Regions from separate parts of the Homo sapiens genome. Here region 2 is linked to region 1. A link means that fine-mapping ties the variant in region 1 to the expression of a gene that starts in the linked region. Tissue or cell type: whole blood. Region 1 holds a variant in brackets; the other region holds the start of a gene. All regions are shown on one strand. Distances are from middle to middle.

Region 1 (10,643 bases):
TAGGATATTTATGCTTGGTGTTTTCAGTATTAATAATATGAAATAATAGATAGACTGCCATGCAGCTGACCAAGGGCTTTCTTCCCCTGGGGAGTGGTTAGAAGGCCAAAGGTATTTCAGCCTGTAGGTGATAAAATTAGATTTCTTTACTTGCTGTGGTTAGACAGCAGTCAGTTAAAACAAGTAAAACTCCACTGTCCTGTCTGGGATCACCTAAATGAGGAATGTCACCAGCACTTCACAGCAAGAATATGCATTCTACAATGCTTTCTAAATTTGTGCTCCATCAGAGAAGCCCCACCATGTCCCACTAATGAAGCCCAGTTCTTTGGGAATGATGAATCCCTACTGTGCACATACAGCAATCATGGATCCTGCCTATCGAGGTGATTCACAATACACTTTCCCATTTCAAAAATGACGGGTATTTTAATTAGTCCACATTTCAGGTGTTAAATGTGGGAAAGGGATTAGCTAAACTTGCTCAATTCTGTTTTAGCTGAATGAGTCATAGGTACTGCTGGGCTGTCCTACAGTTCCTTCTGGCTTTCCCTCCGAGCAGGGTGGGAATGAGCAGTGACCTGGTCAAGGGACCCGGGCCACTTGATAGACCTCTCCTCCCACTCTTCTGCTAGCAGCTCAGAGAAGTCAAGGATGTTTTGTTGTTCTCATCATTTAGGGTGCTTGGCTGTTGGGTTCAGTGATCCTTACATCTAGCCCCAGCTAGTGGTGTTCTGGTAAATCGTTAACCACCAACTCTTTGAGCCTCCCGGGGTAATGAAAGTTACACCTCTAGTTAGCATGTTTATGAAATAGATCCCTTCTGCACGCGAAGACCTGCATGTAGGGCAGTATGGTGGAAATGGTCCTGAATACTGTTGACGGTCCACCTAGAAGGAACCCGCCCAGACCAAGTCTTAGCAGTTGGGTTCTTACTGACCACCTTCTTCCCTGGCTCTCCTCAGTGGAGGGAATGGAAGGCTGTGCCAGCTGTTTCAGAGCTTTCTCCTCTCTGCTCCCTTCTCTATAGATGCAGATGCCTTGGCTCTACCTGCCACTAATGATCTCATTGGGTATGACTTTAGATTTTTTTTTTTTTTTTTTTTTTTCTTTTGAGACAGTCTTGCTGTCACCCAGGCTGGAGTGCAGTGGCACGATCTTGTCACTGCAACGTCTGCCTCCTGGGTTCAAGCGATTCTCCTGCCGCAGTCTCTGGAGTAGCTGGGATTAAAGGCATGCACCACCACGCCTGGCTAATTTTTGTATTTTTGTAGAGATGGGGTTTCACCATGTTGGCCAGGCTGGTCTTGAACTCCCGACCTCAGGTGATCTGCCTGCCTCAGCCTCCCAAAGTGCTGGGATTACAGACATGCGCCACCATGCCTGGCCACTTTAGGCATTCTCTAAAAACCCAACTACAGTGATGCTAGATGTGTCCTGGGTCTTACACACAATTCTGCTACAATAGAGAGGTGGTGGCCACTGACACTTAGGGCCTTGCACCTGTGTCATGTCTAATTCTAAAATCATCCCAAAACGAGCCACATCAGTGCTGCCCAGTTTTTCTGTAATGCCAAATCTAGGCTAAAGATTTCCCACTCACCACCAGCACACACTAGCAGGTAGTAGTTGGACCAATGTGACTTGAGAGCGGACTGGTGCTTCACCTAATGCCAACTGAAACTTCAGCTCGCTGGCTCCACCCAGTGGTGGCGAATAAGCACAGCAACCTCATTAACAATGAGACAGATTTCTTGCCTCATTTGATGCTCAATCTTACTTACCTGAGATCAATACATTACATTAGCAGGGCCAAGGGACCGATGATCTCCAGCCTATGGCAATTAGAAGAGACGGAAAGGCAGTATTGATTAATGCTGTGGTGATCCCAGCCCTAATCTTTTAACCCTCAGGAAACCAGACAGACTCAGTGCCTTCATGGCACAACATCTTCATTAGATAAACTGGATTCCTTTCCTCAGGAGACCCAATTTGGTCCTCTAAGTAAAACGGCCATTTCATTTTCTCTCAGGTCAATTTCACTGTCTTTTATTTGACAGCTAGCGCAGTCTTTGGGGAAATTTGTGGGTGATTTGAGTAGTAACAGCAAGGACATCACTGTAATTATGATAGTGCCTTATATTTTTCTAGCACCTCTCCCAAGGACTTATGAAGACTTTTAGATTCTTCATCCCTTCACACAACATTGCTTCAAGGTAGGGCCAAGGCAGAAATTATCATCACTGTTTTACAAGGAAAGACACTCCTGTGCGGTCTCAAAGCAAATGCTTTTAAGAGCTAAAAATTCATTTCCTAGTTCTGTTCACCAAATGATGCCTTCTTTAAACATAAATACAAATTGTAATGTTAGCAGGTGCTATTTACAGAGAGAAACAAAGAGAATTTTACAATAGTCGCCAACACTGCAGCTGCCAAAAAATCCCTAGCTCAGAAATTTAAAGCAGCAATCCCATTTTCCCTACAGAAATGAAAACATATTGAACTTTCTTTTGTATTTAGCAGTAATCCAGCAAAATATAAGCTTTAATATAGCGACTGAGGAGTGGTAGTTTGAGCCATGAGGTACGGGGGAGCCAGAATCCACTTAGTGAGGACAGTGATGACCAGCAGGTGGCAGAAGTAAATTCCAAGCAGCCAAAAAACCAAAAACATTCGGAGAATTTTCCCCCCGTTCCTGAGGGACAGGATGGAGTTTGGACAGGAAGAACTGTAAGAAGCCAAGATCTGCGACAGTCCCAACAAATACAGTCTGGTCACATGGATACAGGAAGGACGATCTGGGGAGGCATACCAACAAGAAACGAAGCCAGGGACCTGAATGCAAAACTAGCCTCAGGTGACATGTTCTCCTGCACTTAGAAGCACTGGCAAAACCATGCCCACATAGAGGGGGCAGACACATGTCTGGGTTTCAGTTTCTGCAGACCTTCATCATTTGTTTTCCTTTTTGTTTTCTCTGTTGCCCAGGCTGGAGTGCAATGGCGCAATCTCGGCTCACTGCAACCTCCGCCTCCCAGCTTCAAGGGATTCTGCCTCAGCCTCCTGTGGAGCTGGGATTACAGGCGTGTGCCACCATGCCTGGATAATTTTTGCATTTTTAGTAGAGATGGGGTTTCACTAAGTTGGCCAGGCTGGTCTCAAACTCCTGACCTGAAGTGATCTGCCCACCTCGGTGTCCCAAAGTGCTGGGATTACAGGCGTGAGCAACCGCGCCCTTGCTTTCCTCTTAATCACTGTAGCTCTACCCCGTGGCTATTCCTAGGTAGGTGCCCCCTCCCCAGCCCAACCCCACCGGTTTCCTTGGAGGAAACCATCCATGGTCGATGGCTGCTGGGCCTTGACTCTCTGCCCAGCGCCTCTACTGCATGGATGGGGTTCCTGCCCTCGAAGCAGACATCTTCTTTTTCTGACTTTCCAAAAGCAGCGGAGAGGCAGGAGGTGCGTCGTGAGGTCTGGGTGCAGGACCTAGGAAGAAGAGGTTACAAGGAACCTGCGCCGGGAGCATGCGGTGCCCTCGGGACAGACCTAGCCCCAGGGCCCGTGGGTGTCCCTTCTTTCCAGTGGACATTCCCACCCTTTTCATACAGCCCATAGATAAATGAAGCAGCAGCAATTTTTATTGAGGGACCTAAACTGAAAATAGGTTTAGAACATAATTTAAAAAAATAAAACAGCAAAAGTAGCAAAAAATATATGACCTTTTTAAAAACATTTTCCTTTTTTTTCTTTTTTGTTTTTAATATATAGCAACTGATGCCTCCCAGCCACCAGGAGCATCTTACCCGATGGGTAAATCTCTGGTAACGACCCTTTTAAAAAGACATGTAAATATATACTCAGATTTATACACTTTGTGTTTTCTTCATAGCTATATACAGAGCCCCCAGTTTGGGGCTGGGCCCCAGGGCCACAACACTGCCCCCAACCTGGCCTTCGCCTCACCATCCTCTGGTACCAGGCATTTGGTCAGCAAAGCAAACTAGTATCGGAATTAATAAGCCACTGGCACCACCTATCTGGGGCAGAGGTCACCTTCAATCGAGGCACGAAGCACTGACCTCCCTACTGCTGTAGCCCTGAGGACAAGGCACCTGCCACCAGAGTGCGAGGGGCTTATGGGTGAAGGCAAAACAGACCAAACCGACAGGAGAAAGCTCAGGAAGCTCTCACTTGCATGCCTGTTCATTGGCTCCCACTCCCTGCCCTCCAGGCAGTGCCTGGTGGCAGGGAGGGGTGTTGGTCCAACATCTGGGAGGGGATGAAGTGGCTGGCAGCAAAGATCTGCCTCTTTGCACCTCTCACCAGCAGGTGGAGAGGAGGTGGAGGGAGAGGTGAGCTGAGTGGGGTGAAGGCAGGCCACACAGGAAGGCCCCTGGTAGGCAGCCGGCTCCTGCCAGCAGGAAAGGGGACAGGGACGGACAGGTGGTGGGCCCAGCAGGGGCTGTGGGTGAGGGTTACAGCTGACGGTGGAGTCTGGGGAGGGCGTGTGGGTGGCAGTCAGCGGCGTTTGAGTCCGCCATTGGCAAGCTGGGCTGGGTGTCGGGGCAGGCAGGGCTCCTCGGGCAGCGGCTCATGAGAGAAGACGGAATCCTCCCCTGAGGAGCACGTAGAGCTCCGGGTGTCGGGAAAGCTGGGGGAGTACTGGTCCAGGG[G/A]CATGGACAGGTCCAGGTACTCCTGTGATGGGCGAGAGGAAGCAGCGATGGGCCGGGCCCCTCCTCCCTGCTCAGGGAGGTGCGTGCACGCAGTGGGGACGGCCTGAGCTCTGGCTCTGGCACGGGCAGCCTTACCTGGTTGGAGGTCAAGGCCACGATGCGGTCCAGGTCTTCCACCAGCTGCTTGAAGGTGGGTCTCTGTGAGGGCACTGCATGCCAGCAGTCCCGCATCATCATGTACCTGCGGCAGGACTGTAAGGTCAGGGACGTCTCCTGGAGATGGATACTCTCTAGTCTAGCCCCCTGCCCCTCAAGCCCACTCTTGCCCCAAGGCCTGGCTCAGGGCCTCCGACATCTCCTCGGGCTTACAGCTCGTTGGTGCAGTTACTGGGCTTGTCCATGCGGTGACCCTCCTTCAGCAGCTTGAAAAGTTCCTCCACAGGCACACCGGGGTATGGGGAGCCGCCCAGAGTGAAGATCTCCCACAGGAGCACCCCGAAAGACCACCTGCAAATGGGCGGAGAGCCACAGGGTGTTAGAGCTTCTCCGCCTCCCCTCCCCCAGCACAAATCCTCTACCCAGGGCAGTGCCAGGAGACAGCATGGAGAACAGATCAGCCTTTCAACATCTGGAGCAGAGGGAATGGCCACAGACAATGTTTTGTTTTTCTCTCTGGGGCAGAAAGAGGACTCCTCAGTCCAGGGAGAAAGCAGGACTCTACAGTGCTAGAAGCTCTCTATCCCACACCTCCCTGGCAATTGCTATTACAAACTCACACATCACTCTGGTGGGTGTAGATCCGGTCAAATAATGCCTCGGGTGCCATCCACTTCACAGGCAGTCGGCCCTGAAAGCAGCACAGGGGAGGTTGGAGTGGCCCCAGGCAGGGCCATGAGGGCACAGGTGGGAAGGGACTGGGGGGTGGGTTCTCAGCCCACCCCACTCCTTGCTTCTCAGATGAAACCACCAGCACAGGGCGGCCTTGTCGGCACTCACGTTGGTTGTCTTTTTATAGTAGTCGATGTGGTGAATGTCCCGTGCGAGGCCAAAGTCTGCTATCTTCATCACATTGTCCTCTGTCACCAGGACATTCCTGGCTGCCAGGTCTCGGTGTATGCACTGAGGAAGGAGGAAGGGAGAGCGGGAGGCGGGGAGGTGAGGGAGCTGGAAGGCTCTGGGCGGCCGCCACCCATGCAACTAGCCGACTTGTCTCATAGAACTTCTGCCACACTGCTCTGCCCCCCGAACCTTTGCTTTCCCTCTTCTAACATTCTCTGCCAGCTCCAGGCTTCTCATCACAGCAAGCGCTCCTCCCTTCCTTCCCCAAAGACTGGCCCCTTATGCCTCTGCTGCGTCTGCAGCGATGCATGCTCCTAGGTCCTGCCTCCCAGCACAGCAAGTCCACATGGGGCTGGGCTCAAACCAGGCCAGCCCTTACACACCAAACACTGCACTCAACACTCACAGACAGTTTCATTTTATCTTCATAACAATTCTACAACAGGTATTGTTATACTTTATTTTCTTTTGAGACAGGGCCTTGCTCTGTCGCCCCGGCTGGGGTGCAGTGGTGTGATCATGGCTCAGTGCAGCCTCAAACTCTTGGGCTCAAGCTAGCCTCCCACCTCAGCCTCCCGAGTAGCTGGGACTATCGGCACGCACTACCACACCCAGCTAATTTTTTAATTTTTTTTTTTTTTTTAAAGACGGGGTTTCAATATATTGCCCAACCTGGTCTCACACTCCTGAGCTCAAGCAATCCTCCCGCCTTGGCCACTGCACCCAGCTGATATTATTATTATTTTGTATTTGAAGAATTTTAAGATGCTAAGTAGCTGCCTGAGGCTACGCAGAAAGTGGCAGTGCACAGATCGGACCCTGCATCAGTCTGACCCCAAGGCCACCTGGCTACACTGGTGCTCCTGACTCTGCAGTTCCCAGAGAGCCTAAGACAACACACAGGGCACACAGGGCCAGTGCTCAGTGCATCCACAACGCCACCACAAGATGATAAGTCACAGGCTGGAAGACTAGGGGGGCTCTGTTCCCACCCTGGCATTACCCAGGGGAGCCTTCAGGTTCCACACCTTCTTGGAGGCCAGATACTCCATGCCTCGGGCCACCTGGTAGGCGCAGGACACCAGGTCCTTGGAGGAGAGCTGCTCCTCTGGGTTGTGGCTGGGGTTGTAGCAGTATTCCAGCCCTGGGGGCCTCCGGGCCTGCAGGTACTCCCGCAGGTTGCCCTTGGAGGCATACTCCACGATGACATACAAGGGACCTGCAGGCACAGGAGAAGAGGCCATGGGGCCAGCAGCAGGTGAGCAGGTTTGGCTTCACCTCAAAGAAACCCCACCCCCAGCAGCACACCCCGGCCAACCTCCCATCTCCTGCCTCCTCTTAGGGGACCTGGGAAATCCATTCTACTACCCAAAAAAAATCAGAGAAATAATTACTCCCAGCATAGTCCAGAAAATTCCCGAGCAACATTGGGGTAAGAGCCCCAGTTTGTCTGTTTATTTTGAGATGGAGTCTCACTCTGTTGCCCAGGCTGGAGTGCAGTGGCGCAATTTCGGCTCACTGCAACCTCTGCCTTCTGGATTCAAGTGATTCTCCTGCCTCAGCCTCCCAAGCAGCTGGGATTACAGGCATGAACAATGCCTGGCTAATTTTTTTTTTTTTTTTTTTTTTTTTTGAGATGGAGTTTTGCTCGTTGCCCAAGCTGGAGTGCAATGGCGCGATCTCGGCTAACCGCAACCTCCGCCTCCCGTGTTCAAACGATTCTCCTGCCACAGCCTCCCGAGTAGCTGGAATTACAGGCATGCGCCACCACGCCCGGCTACTTTTTGTATTTTTAGTAGAGATGGGGTTTCACCTGTTGGCCAGGCTGGTCTCCAACTCCTGACCTCAAGTGATCCACCCGCCTCACCCTCCCAAGGTGCTGGGATTACAGGCGTGAGCCACTGTGCCTGGCCTATTTATTTATTTTATTTTTGAGACAGCGGGAGTATCTCCCAAGCTGGAGTACAATGGCGTGATCTTGGCTCACTGCAACCTCCACCTCCCGGGTTCAAGCAAGTCTTATGCGTCAGCCTCCTGAGTAGCTGGGATTATAGGCATGCGTGACCATGCCTGGCTAACTTTTGTATTTTTTAGTAGAGATGGGGTTTCACCATTTTGACCAGACTGGTCTCGAACTCCTGATCTCAAGTGATCTTCCTGCCTCGGCCTCCCAAATTGCTGGGATTACAGGCATGAGCCACTGCACCCAGCCTGAGCGCTCTTAGACCATAATTACTCAGCTGCCTCTGTTAACACACCACGTGTGTGAATCTAGGTATCTGTATTCCTGAATGAACACCAATGAGCGGAGCCCAGATCCCGAGATAACACATTTTAAACCTCTGCCAAAGCAGCCTCTCTTAACCCCCTTCCCTAGCTGTGGCTGAGAGAGGCCTTGGGACTGATACCCCAGCTCAGATCTTCTCCCCGCTGGGCAGGGAAAGCCAGTCTGGCCGGCACCCACCATCCTGCGTGCAGGCCCCCAGCAGGTTGATGATATTCTTATGCTTCCCGATCATCTTCATCATCTCCATTTCTGAGATCAGGTCTGACAAGTCTTTCTCTGTTGCGTCCGCTTTAAAGAACACGTTGAGACTCATTTACTTGGGAAGGGAGGAGGGCAGGATAAAGGCTAAGGGAGTGGGGTATGTGTCGAGGGGCTGCTTTTCCCTGGGACTTGATTCTCTCCTCCCCACTTCATCCAAACTTGTTTTCTCTTCCCTCTCATGGGAGCCGTTGTTGCAATAGGTGGTAGTGAGTGGGCAGGGATGTGGTGAGGAAAGCCTGCAAGCGATGGATCCAGGATAAACACCTGACCACAGCCCAGGTTGACGCCAAGGAACAGAGTGACGTCATAGAACAATCTCAAGGTGCAGAACACCCCCTCCACTCCCAGGTAACCCCAAGCAGGCAGCGGAGCAGGTGTGGGCAGCAAAGGCACCAGAGAAGCTGTTCTGCTGGGCCCGAGGCCTGCTGTTTGCTTGGAATGGGACAAGATTTTCTTTGCAAGGACAGAAGCATCACTTACACTTCAACATCTTCACAGCCACTTTGGTCACACGGTTGGGTTTGTCCTTGTCCAGCCCGATAGCCTCTGCCAACACCACCTGCCCAAAGCAGCCCTCTCCCAGGGGTTTGCCTAAGACCAGTCTTTCGGGGGAAACAGAGAGTGGCATAAGTTGGGGCTGGTGAAGTTCAAACCTTGAGAGGCACCCCATCTCCACCTCTCTGTATTTCACCCAACTGCGAGCAGAAAGTGGAATGAATGTTTCTGCAGGCATTTCATGAACCTTCACCGCCCAGAAGGTGTTAGTATACACACCTTCCACCACTAGAATAGCAAGCAAGGAATGCCTTCAAAAAGTTGGGAGTCAAAGTATTATTACCTGTCCCGAGGCAGCTCCCAGCGAGGGTCTTCGGGAAGCTCATACTCAGAGACCCCTGCTAGCATGGGAGTCCCACTGGAGGAGAGCCGTGATGGCCGAACCAGAAGAACCCCAGAGTTCATGGATGCACTGGAGTCAGCAGACACCTGCAAGGAAGAGTGGGGTCACCCTAGAGCAAGGAGGGGGGACGGGGTGACTCCTTCCCATTCTTAGTCAGGGCTTCCCAACAATGGCAGAGGCACATGTCTGTGTATCTGATGTTCTTTCCTCAACACAGAGTGGTCCAAAGACCATGGTAGGCCAGGAGGCCCAACTTCTAGGACTGACCTATTTCTGCCACAAGCTGGCCTTTCTGGACTTCACTCACCTTTAAAATAAGCAGACCAAATGCACCTCTTCCAGCTTGACATTTTATAACTGATCATTGCAGTAACAACTCTGTTCTCCTGACTCTTTGCAAATACTTTGCCTTAGCTTATGGATTCCTAACTCCCAAAGCACCTTCCAGAATGAGCACAGGCTTCTGAGGGAACGGTCATTCTTGCACACACCTGTGCCATCTGTACCATTTCCTCCCGTGGGGAAGGGTGGGCACACAGGGGACAAGGGTATGGTATGGCTGAGATGGTTTGGCTGTGTCCCCACCCAAATCTCATCTTGAATTCCCACGTGTTATGGGAGGGACCTGGTAGGAGGTCATTGACTCATGGGGGCAGGTCTTCCCTGTGCTGTTCTTGTGATAGTGAATAAATCTCACGAGATCTGATGATTTTATAAAGGGGAGTTTCCCTGTACAAGCTCTCTTCTCGTCTGCCGCCATGTGAGACGTGCCTTTTGCCTTCTGCAATTGTGAGGCCTCCCCAGCCACGTGGAACTGTGAGTCCATTAAACCTCTTTCTTTTGTAAATTGCCCGGTCTTGGGTATGTCTTTCTCAGCAGTGTGAAAATGGACTAATACAAACAGTTCTCTTCTCTACCCTGCATCTCTGCACTTCTAAGCAGCCCTTGGGGACAGTTCAAATTCATGCTATTGGCTGCACATTCTGTCCAAATAGGACTTCCTCCCAATCCATGTCCCAGGAGTCCGGAGGACTTGCAGTGTGATATGGAGGGTGCAGGAAATTCACGGGCTACACTAGCTTGAAACAGACTCTAGAGCACTTAGTTCATGATATTCCACTGTGCCTTGCCCAGAAGCCAGAAAATAAGGCCCAAAGCTATAAATTAGGGACAATGGAGAGGGCAGGGCATTAGAGGCCCAGAGAGAGAGGTGGTGCTGAGTGTGCAAATCCCCCATCTACTTTCTGTTACCTGTCTGCGCAGAGGGATGCTCTTGGCCAGCTTGTGCACAGCCATCTGGCTGTGGAAGTCACTCTTCTTGGTACCACTCTTCATCTTGTAGACGATGACCGACCCCACCATGCAGGAGATGAGGAAGGCCCCTGTGCAATAGATGATGATCTCCAGGTACAGGGGCGAGGTCATCACTGCCGGCCTCTCTTCCAGGGCTGAGTCAGTGCGAACA
Region 2 (7,773 bases), 27 kb before region 1:
TCCTGGCTAAGACGGTGAAACCCCGTCTCTACTAAAAATACAAAAAATTAGCCGGGCGTGGTGGGGGGCGCCTGTAGTCCCAGCTACTCAGGAGGCTGAGGCAGGAGAATGGCGTGAACCCGGGAAGCGGAGCTTGCAGTGAGCCGAGATCGCGCCACTGCACTCCAGCCTGGGCGACACAGAGAGGCTATGTCTCAAAAAAAAAAAAAAAAATCTCATTACTATTAATCATTAAATATTTTTAAACGTATGCTTTAAGTAGTACCACAAGTTACAGCTATCAGTAAAAGCATACTTTTTATTTGTGATATGACATTTTAAAACACAGATGGCCAAAGCGGGCCACCAAGTCTAGCTTAATTCTATCTCCAGGAAAGAGGGATTAAATTGGTCTTTTTTTTTTTTCTATGAGCCTTTCTACCTCCATTCTTCTTTTTCTTCCTCCTGTGTCTTCCTTGCTTTGTTGATAAACTGTTGCCTTGACCCGGCACCTGGGTTTCTCCCTTGAGGAGAATCTAGTAAATTGTCCCCAGGGATCTTATATTAGCCTGTTTCTAATAGCTATGCTGACAGCAAGAGTTTAAAATTGGAGTTATGTGAAGTAGATGCATAGTCTTTTCCTGCAAAACATTACAAAATACAGTTAGTATACTTGATCTGGTGGCATATTTAGGAAAATGGCCATTAAAAATAATAGTTTACATTTTCAGTATCTAACATCTTCTGAGGTTTAGACGATGCTTACTGTTCGCCATAGAAAATGAACAAGGAGCTCATTAAGACAGCAATCTAACACAATTCTCAGGGCCAGAGTCATGGAGGAAAAAATATTTTTTTAAAAATTTCTCTTCTGAAGATTACATACAGAATCTTACATGATAAATCTCTTATCCTGAAAGTCAAAGAAATTGCCAAGTCTCATAACTAGGGAAGACGGACATTACTTTGAACAGATATCTCAATAAGAAGAGTTCTTAGCCCTTCCCTTTTTAGGATAGGATTGCTGACATATGGCCATGGTAGAAAACCTAGCTCATCTTTCAAATACTGGGCATGGAATCGTTCATCTGGTTTATGAATACTTAATGATATTCACTGTGCCTGGTTGTAAGTGAATACAATGCATGAATAAGAATATTTCCCCGTATAAAATGTCTCCCAGGGAACTGAAAATATTTTTGCATCCTTTAAGATCTTTTCCAGAAAAGTACCAGTACATGGTAGTGCAATGATTAATTTATGAAATTAGTGTGAAAACTACATCTACCTTCTAGAGCTCAAAATTTGACCACCAGGAATTTTCAGTGAGGGAAAAGTAAAGAGTCCAAAGCTTTGTAGATTTTAATACTGGTAAACAGAACGTGAAGTGAAACCTTTATGTGCAAAGTTGAACATCAGACATGCACAAAGAGACCTCTAGTGGCCAAACTGAAAAGTTTTGCCTATTTAACAGTGGATCTATTTGGTTATTAGCTGAAAAATCCTTTGTGGATTAAAAGCAGTCTGCATTTTTTACTGACGTTTAATACCGCCATCTTCCATTCTTAAAAATGTGTAGCCCAGATGAGTAAAGTCTGTGGTCAGCTCACATGTCAGGAGACGTATTCTCCGTGAGAAAGCGATTCCTTGCTGTATGGTGGTCGAGTAGAGCCACTAAGAAAAAAAAAATTTTTTTTTGAGGTGGAATCTCGCTCTTGTCGCCCAGGCTGGAGTGCAGTGGCGCGATCTCGACTCACTGCAACCCCTGCCTCCCGGGTTCAAGCGATTCTCCTGCCTCAGCCTCCAGAGTAGCCGGAACTACAGGCGCACGCCACCATGCCCGGCTAATTTTTGTATTTTTTTTTAGTAGAGACAGGGTTTCACCATGTTGGCCAAGATGTTTTCTGTCTCCTGACCTTGTGATCCGCCCGCCTCGGCCTCCCAAAGTGCTGGGATCACAGGCGTGAGCCACCGCGCCCAGCCTAAATAAAAAAAATTTTTAACTCTTTCTTCTGGAGCCAGATAAAATGGATGGGAAAAGATAACTGGGGAATGAGAATATTTCTAGATGTTTCATTTTCCCAAGATGGCTCAGTTGGCCATCCTAGGAACTGAAGTGCCCTCAAACCTGCAGTGTCTGTCATTTCACAGCTACTATAACATACATTTTATATGCTGAGATTTCTATACAAATTATTAATCACAAACAACACTTGTTAAGGGACCATTGAGAAAGCAAATATTTTTAGTAGAATACAGATTTCCATATGAAGATTTCACAGTATTCCAGCCTCTGGAGAGGAAGGGAGAGGAATGCGCTCCTTCCGATTCCCGCCCTTTCTGCGACACCATCAAATCCTCTCAGCGCCCCTCTGGCAGTTCCGGATTTGCAGGGTCCGAGGGAGAATACATCAAAGTGATGTCATTCATGACTCCGAAATGGTTACCATGGCGACTATCAGACATATTAAGCTGTCAGGGAAAGAGCCTGTTTAATCCAGTCTTCAATCACGGGTTTCCTCGGGCGTTAGCCACTGCCTGCGGAGTGTGGACTGGCAGAAAAACGTCACCTTCGGGCCCCCCAGCACCAACGCGCCTTAAACCAAGCCCCACAAAGAAGTCACTTCGGCGATGTAAACGCGACTTTGCGGCTTCCTGGGCTGCTAAGGTGAAGGACGCCCGCCCTCCCCAGAACTTGAGAGCTTATTGGTTGGCGATGTCGTCACTCAGAGTGACGTCAGGGGCGAGGAAAGAGGCGGAACCGTAGAGACTTGGCTTCGGGCCCTTCTAGCTTGGGGGTCCCGGGAAGGAGCTGGGAGGACCTAGGCGGCCGTTCCGCGGAGCCCGGCCGAGGAGGTAGGGGTGGGCAGGCCCAGCCCTCAGGCCGCGACCTGGTGGGCCGCGCTGCCTTTTTTTCCTCCGGATCCCGCTCGGTCCGCATCCTGCTCCTCTCATCAGAGCATGATCCAGGCTTCTGACAGCTTCCAGTTCCCACCGCGCTCTCCTCCACCCACGACCTCATCCCCGCCAGTTCCCCAGCACAGCGCGAACTCTGAAGCTCGGCCTCTCCTCCCCCTTCCCCGCACAGCGCGCTCCGTCCTTTTTTCCGTCCCAGGCCCTGCTTCTTTCTCCTCGGCTTCATTTCCAACAACCCCGATCATCCACGAGGGTCGTCGTTCCCGTGCCTGTCCCACCTCCGCACCAGAAAACCAAAGCATATCCCCCAGACCCCGCCGCATGCAGGCCGCGCACACATCAGGCGCGCCGAAGCCGCCGGGCGAGGAAGCCGAGGGCGCGTTTTGCTCCCGTGTGGTGATGGGCAAAGCCGAGGGAGCCCGGGAGCAGCGGGCGTGGGGCGGCGCCAATGCGAGTGCGAGTGGTGTCCGCCGCCCGGGAGCGCCCGGGCCCGAGCGGATTAACCGCCGCCTCAGGTGTCGTCTCCTGCCCGCGAAACACCACCCACCGTTAGTGTGGGTCCACAGGTTTCGAGCCCCTGTTGAAAATGTCAGCTCTGTGGCTAAGGTTTCTATTCAGGAGAGCTCCTGGAACTCTTTTCCCAACCACAAGAGAGCAAAGCTGCCATTGGGAATGTCAGCTCTTCTGCCGTTCCTCGCGGCCCTTAGCAGAAAAGCGCCCCTGGATGGAGATGGGTTTTGGTGAAGGTTATTTACAGGTTCAAAGCTCAGTTTGGGCTCTGGAGAATCAGTAGCAAGGGAAACAGTTTTACCTCCACTTGAGCGATTAGTAGGTTGCATGTCTACCTTCATCCACTGCTACATAAATTAGATTAGTGGGTACGTCCAATATTCAGGGTTTGGGACAACTTGCCTAAATATAGAACAATGCTAACTGAAAAGAAATTCAGAATATTCACTTTCTACCTATATTTTAAGGCTACAGATAGATATGTATTGCTCTACTTTTAAGTACTTGGCAATCATTGAAGTTGCATTACTAGATACTATTGACCAGAAATCAAAATGTCTCTGAAGATTGTACCATCTTCATGAGCATCATCATCTTAGAGATCATTACCGTTTGTTGGAATCTCAAAGTACCATTCTCAAGTCCAGAGCTACGAAAATATCTGATTGTTGGAAATGAGCTTGAAGGAGGTTTTGTACCTTAACTATGCAAATGTTCTACCTTTGCAATAGTTAAAAACACTAAAATCCTGATGTCTTTTAATTGATGTATTTTTAAACTACTAAATTGTTTACTTACTCCTTTTGCCTAGGTCCCTATGTTAACTACTTGAGACAAAAATAAATATGGCCTTCTACAGTTATAATTCAGTTCTGGCTATTGCTCGAACAAGGTAAGCATTGGAGTTACCCCCCAATATGAACGTAATTCTTCTTCTTCTTCTTTTTTTTTTTTTTTTCTGAGATGGAGTCGCACTCTGTCGCCCAGGCTGGAGTTCAATGGTGCAATCTCGGCTCACTGCAACCTCTGCCTCCCGGGTTCAAGCTACTCTCCTCCCTCAGCCTCCAAGTAACTGGGATTACAGGTGTTTGCCACCACCTCCGGCTAATCTTTGTATTTTCAGTAGAGACGAGGTTTCACCATGTTGGCCAGGCTGCTCTGGAACTCCTGACCTTAGGTGATCCGCCTGCCTTGGGCTCCCAAAGTGCTGGGATTACAGGCGTGAGTCACCTCGCCTGGCCTGAATTTCATCCTTCTAGATGGAAAGGATTGGCTTAGTACACAATTAAAAGTTTCTTGGAGGCTGGGTGCAGTGGCTCACACCTGTAATCCCAGCACTTTGGGAGGCCAAGGCGAGCGGATTGCCTGAGGTCAGGAGTTCAAGACCAGCCTGACCAACATGGTGAAACCCCGTCTCTACTAAAACTGCAAAAATTAGCCGGCATGGTGGCAGGTACCTATAATCCCAGCACTTGTGAGGCTGAGACAGGAGAATCGCTTGAACCTGGGAGGCGGAGGTTGCAGTGGGCCAAGACTGGGCCACTGCACTCCAGCTTGGGCAACAAGAGTAAAAATCCATCTCAAAAAAAAAAAAGAAAAGAAGATGTAGTTTTTTTTGTTTGTTTGTTTTTGTTTTCTTTTTTGGGACGGATTATCACTCTGTTGCCCAGGCTGGAGTGCAGTGGCATGATATCTTGGCTCACTGCAACCTCCAACTCCCAGGTTCAAGAGATTTTCCTGCCTCAGCCTCACAAGTAGCTGGGATTACAGGCATGCGCCGCCATGTCCCACTAATTTTTGTATTTTTAGTACAGATGGGGTTTCGCCATGTTGGCCAGGCTGGTCTTGAACTCCTGACCTCAGGTAATCCGCCAGCCTGGGCTTCCCAAAGTGCTGGGATTAAAGGCGTGAGCCACTGTGCCCAGCCAGAAGATGTACTGGTTTTAGAGTGACATCTCTGTAATTGATGAACATCACGTGAGGTCCTTAGATGTAAAGCGAGTAAAATGGCTGATGAACAGCCAGTCTTAGGGCATATTCGTGTCCCATTAGGGTCTGTTACCATTATTTATTTATTTATTTATTTATTTATTTTTGAGATGAAATCTCGCTCTATTGCCCAAGCTGGAGTGCAATGGCACAATCTTGGCTCATTGCAACCTCTGCCTCCTGGGTTCAAGTGAGTCTCCTGTCTCAGCCTCCCGAGTAGCTGGGATTACAGGCATGGGCCACCATGCCCAGCTAATTTTTTTGTATTTTTATAGAGATGGTGTTTCTCCATGTTGGCCAGGCTGATCTTGAACTCCTGACCTCAAGTGATCCACCCACCTCAGCCTCCCAAACTGCTGGGATTACAGGCGTGAGCCACCGTGCCCGGCCACCATTTATTTATTCACTGAGACTAAAGACTATTCACTGAGCACTTACTTTTCCCTTTTTGGCCATTCAAAGAGCGTTTTATCTTGGCATGCTTCAAAAATAGTCTGAGGCTGGCTGCAGTGGCTCACACCTATAATCTCAGTACTTTTGGAAGCCTAGACAGGAAGATAGCTCGAGCCCAGGAGTTCAAGAACAGCCTGGGGCCAGGCACTGTGGCTCACGCCTGTAATCCCAACACTTTGGGAGGCCGAGGCGGGTGGACCACAAGGTCAAGAGATCGAGACCATCCTGGCCAATGTGGTGAAACCCCGTCTCTACTAAAAATACAAAAATTAGCTGGACGTGGTGGCATGCAGCTGTAGTCCCAGCTACTCAGGAGGCTAAAGCAGGAGAATCGCTTGAACCTGGGAGGTGGAGGTTGCAGTGAGCCGAGATCACACCACTGCACTCCAGTCTGGGCAACAGAGTGAGACTCCGTCTCAAAAAAAAAAAAAAAAAAAAAAGAACAGCCTGGATAACATAGCAAGACCTCATCTCTACAAAAATTTTTAAAACTAGCTGGGCGTGGTGGTGCGGGCCTGTAGTCCTAGCTACTCAGGATGCTGAGCCTGGGAGGTCGAGGCTGCAGTGAGCTGTGATCACACCACTCTACTCCAGCCTCGGTTTTTAACACCTTAAGAACCAAGCCAGGCATGGTGCATATGCCTGTAATCTCAGCTCCTTGGGAGGCCGAGGTAGGAAGATTGCTTTAGCCCAGGGGTTTGAGGCCAGCCTGGGCAACATAGCAAGACTCTGTGTCTTAAACAGAAAGAGAAAAAAAAGAGCCGGGTGTGATGGCTCACACCTGTAATCCCAGCACTTTGGGAGGCCAAGGCAGGCAGATCACTTGAGGTCAGCAGTTCGAGACCAGTCTTGCCAACATGGTGAAACCCCGTCTCTACTAAAAATATAAAGATTAGCCAGGTGTGGTGGCAGGCACCTGTATTCCCAGATACTCGGGAGGCTGAGGCAGGAGAATCATTTGAACCCAGGAGGCGGAGGTTGCAGTGAGTCAAGATCGCGTCACTGCACTCCAGCCTGGGCAACAGAGTGAGACTCTGTCTCAGAAAAAAAAAAAAAAAAAAAAAGAACCAAGACAAATTTTTTATTTTTGTTTTTTTGTTTTTTGTTTTTTGTTTTTTTGTGAGACAGAGTCTTGCTCTGTCACCAGGCTGGAGTGCAGTGGCGCAATCTTGGCTCACTGCAGCCTCCGCCTCCTGGGTTCAAGCAATTCTCCTGCCTCAGCCTCCCGAGTAGCTGGGACTACAGGTGCACTCCACCACGCCCAGCTAATTTTTGTATTTTTGGTAGAGATGGGGTTTCACCATGTTGGCCAGGATGGTCTAGATCTCTTGACCTCGTGATCCACCTTCCTCAGCCTCCCAAAGTGCTGGGATTACAGGCATGAGCCAGCGTGCCTGGCGACAAATTTTTTTTGCTTTTGTTTTTGGTTTTGTTTTTGGCATGTTCTAAAATAATGAATATTGCATATGCATTTAATTCTATAGCTGTTGAGAACTTGTGTTGATTTCTTCCACATGAGCCTAGGAGGTCATGGCTGCAGTGAGCCGTGATCATGCCACTGTACTCCAGCCTGGGTGACAGAGTGAGACTCCTCCTGTCTCAAAAAAAAAAAAAAAAACAAAAAAAAAAACCAAAAAACTGAAAGAATGGAAAAAGACATCTCTTTGCCAGTAACTTTCTTTGCCAGTATCTGTCATATTTTTATTTTATTTTATTTTAGTTTTTTTTTTTTTTTTTTTTTTTAGACAAGTCTCGCTTTGTCGCCAGGCTGGAGTGCAGTGGCACGATCTTGGCTTATTGCAACCTCTGCCTCCCAGGTTCAAGTGATTCTCCTGCCTCAGCCTCCCGAGTAGCTGGGACTACAGGCACGTGCCACCACGCCCAGCTAATTTTTGTATTTTTAGTAGAGATGGGGTTTCACCAAGT

Evidence for each region. PIP is the estimated chance that this variant, and not a neighbour inherited with it, causes the effect.
Region 2: it holds the start of LETM2, and the variant in region 1 is fine-mapped to the expression of LETM2 in whole blood (TOPMed, PIP above 0.99).

What each region holds. Positions count from the first base shown.
Region 1 is chr8:38,409,110-38,419,752 of GRCh38, forward strand. FGFR1 (fibroblast growth factor receptor 1) reads right to left here. Exons shown (of 18, transcript NM_023110.3): 9 at 10,424-10,626; 10 at 9,119-9,264; 11 at 8,761-8,882; 12 at 8,197-8,307; 13 at 6,761-6,951; 14 at 5,670-5,792; 15 at 5,450-5,520; 16 at 5,043-5,180; 17 at 4,809-4,914; 18 at 2,034-4,695. The coding sequence ends at 4,519. LOC102723716 (a long non-coding RNA gene) reads right to left here and starts at 3,902. Exons shown (of 4, transcript NR_188043.1): 1 at 1,785-3,902. It overlaps LETM2 (leucine zipper and EF-hand containing transmembrane protein 2), which reads left to right. Exons shown (of 11, transcript NM_001286819.2): 11 at 1-418. RefSeq lists a silencer at 642-691 and enhancers at 3,304-3,976, 3,977-4,650, 6,269-7,039, 7,480-8,145, 9,054-9,817. The variant G/A (reference allele first, on the strand shown) is at 4,674.
Region 2 is chr8:38,383,734-38,391,506 of GRCh38, forward strand. It overlaps LETM2 (leucine zipper and EF-hand containing transmembrane protein 2), which reads left to right and starts at 2,743. Exons shown (of 11, transcript NM_001286819.2): 1 at 2,743-2,835; 2 at 4,217-4,297. The coding sequence starts at 4,251. RefSeq lists enhancers at 1,387-2,017, 2,018-2,647, 2,340-2,579, 2,600-2,679, 2,801-3,302 and 2 more and silencers at 3,230-3,369, 3,410-3,459.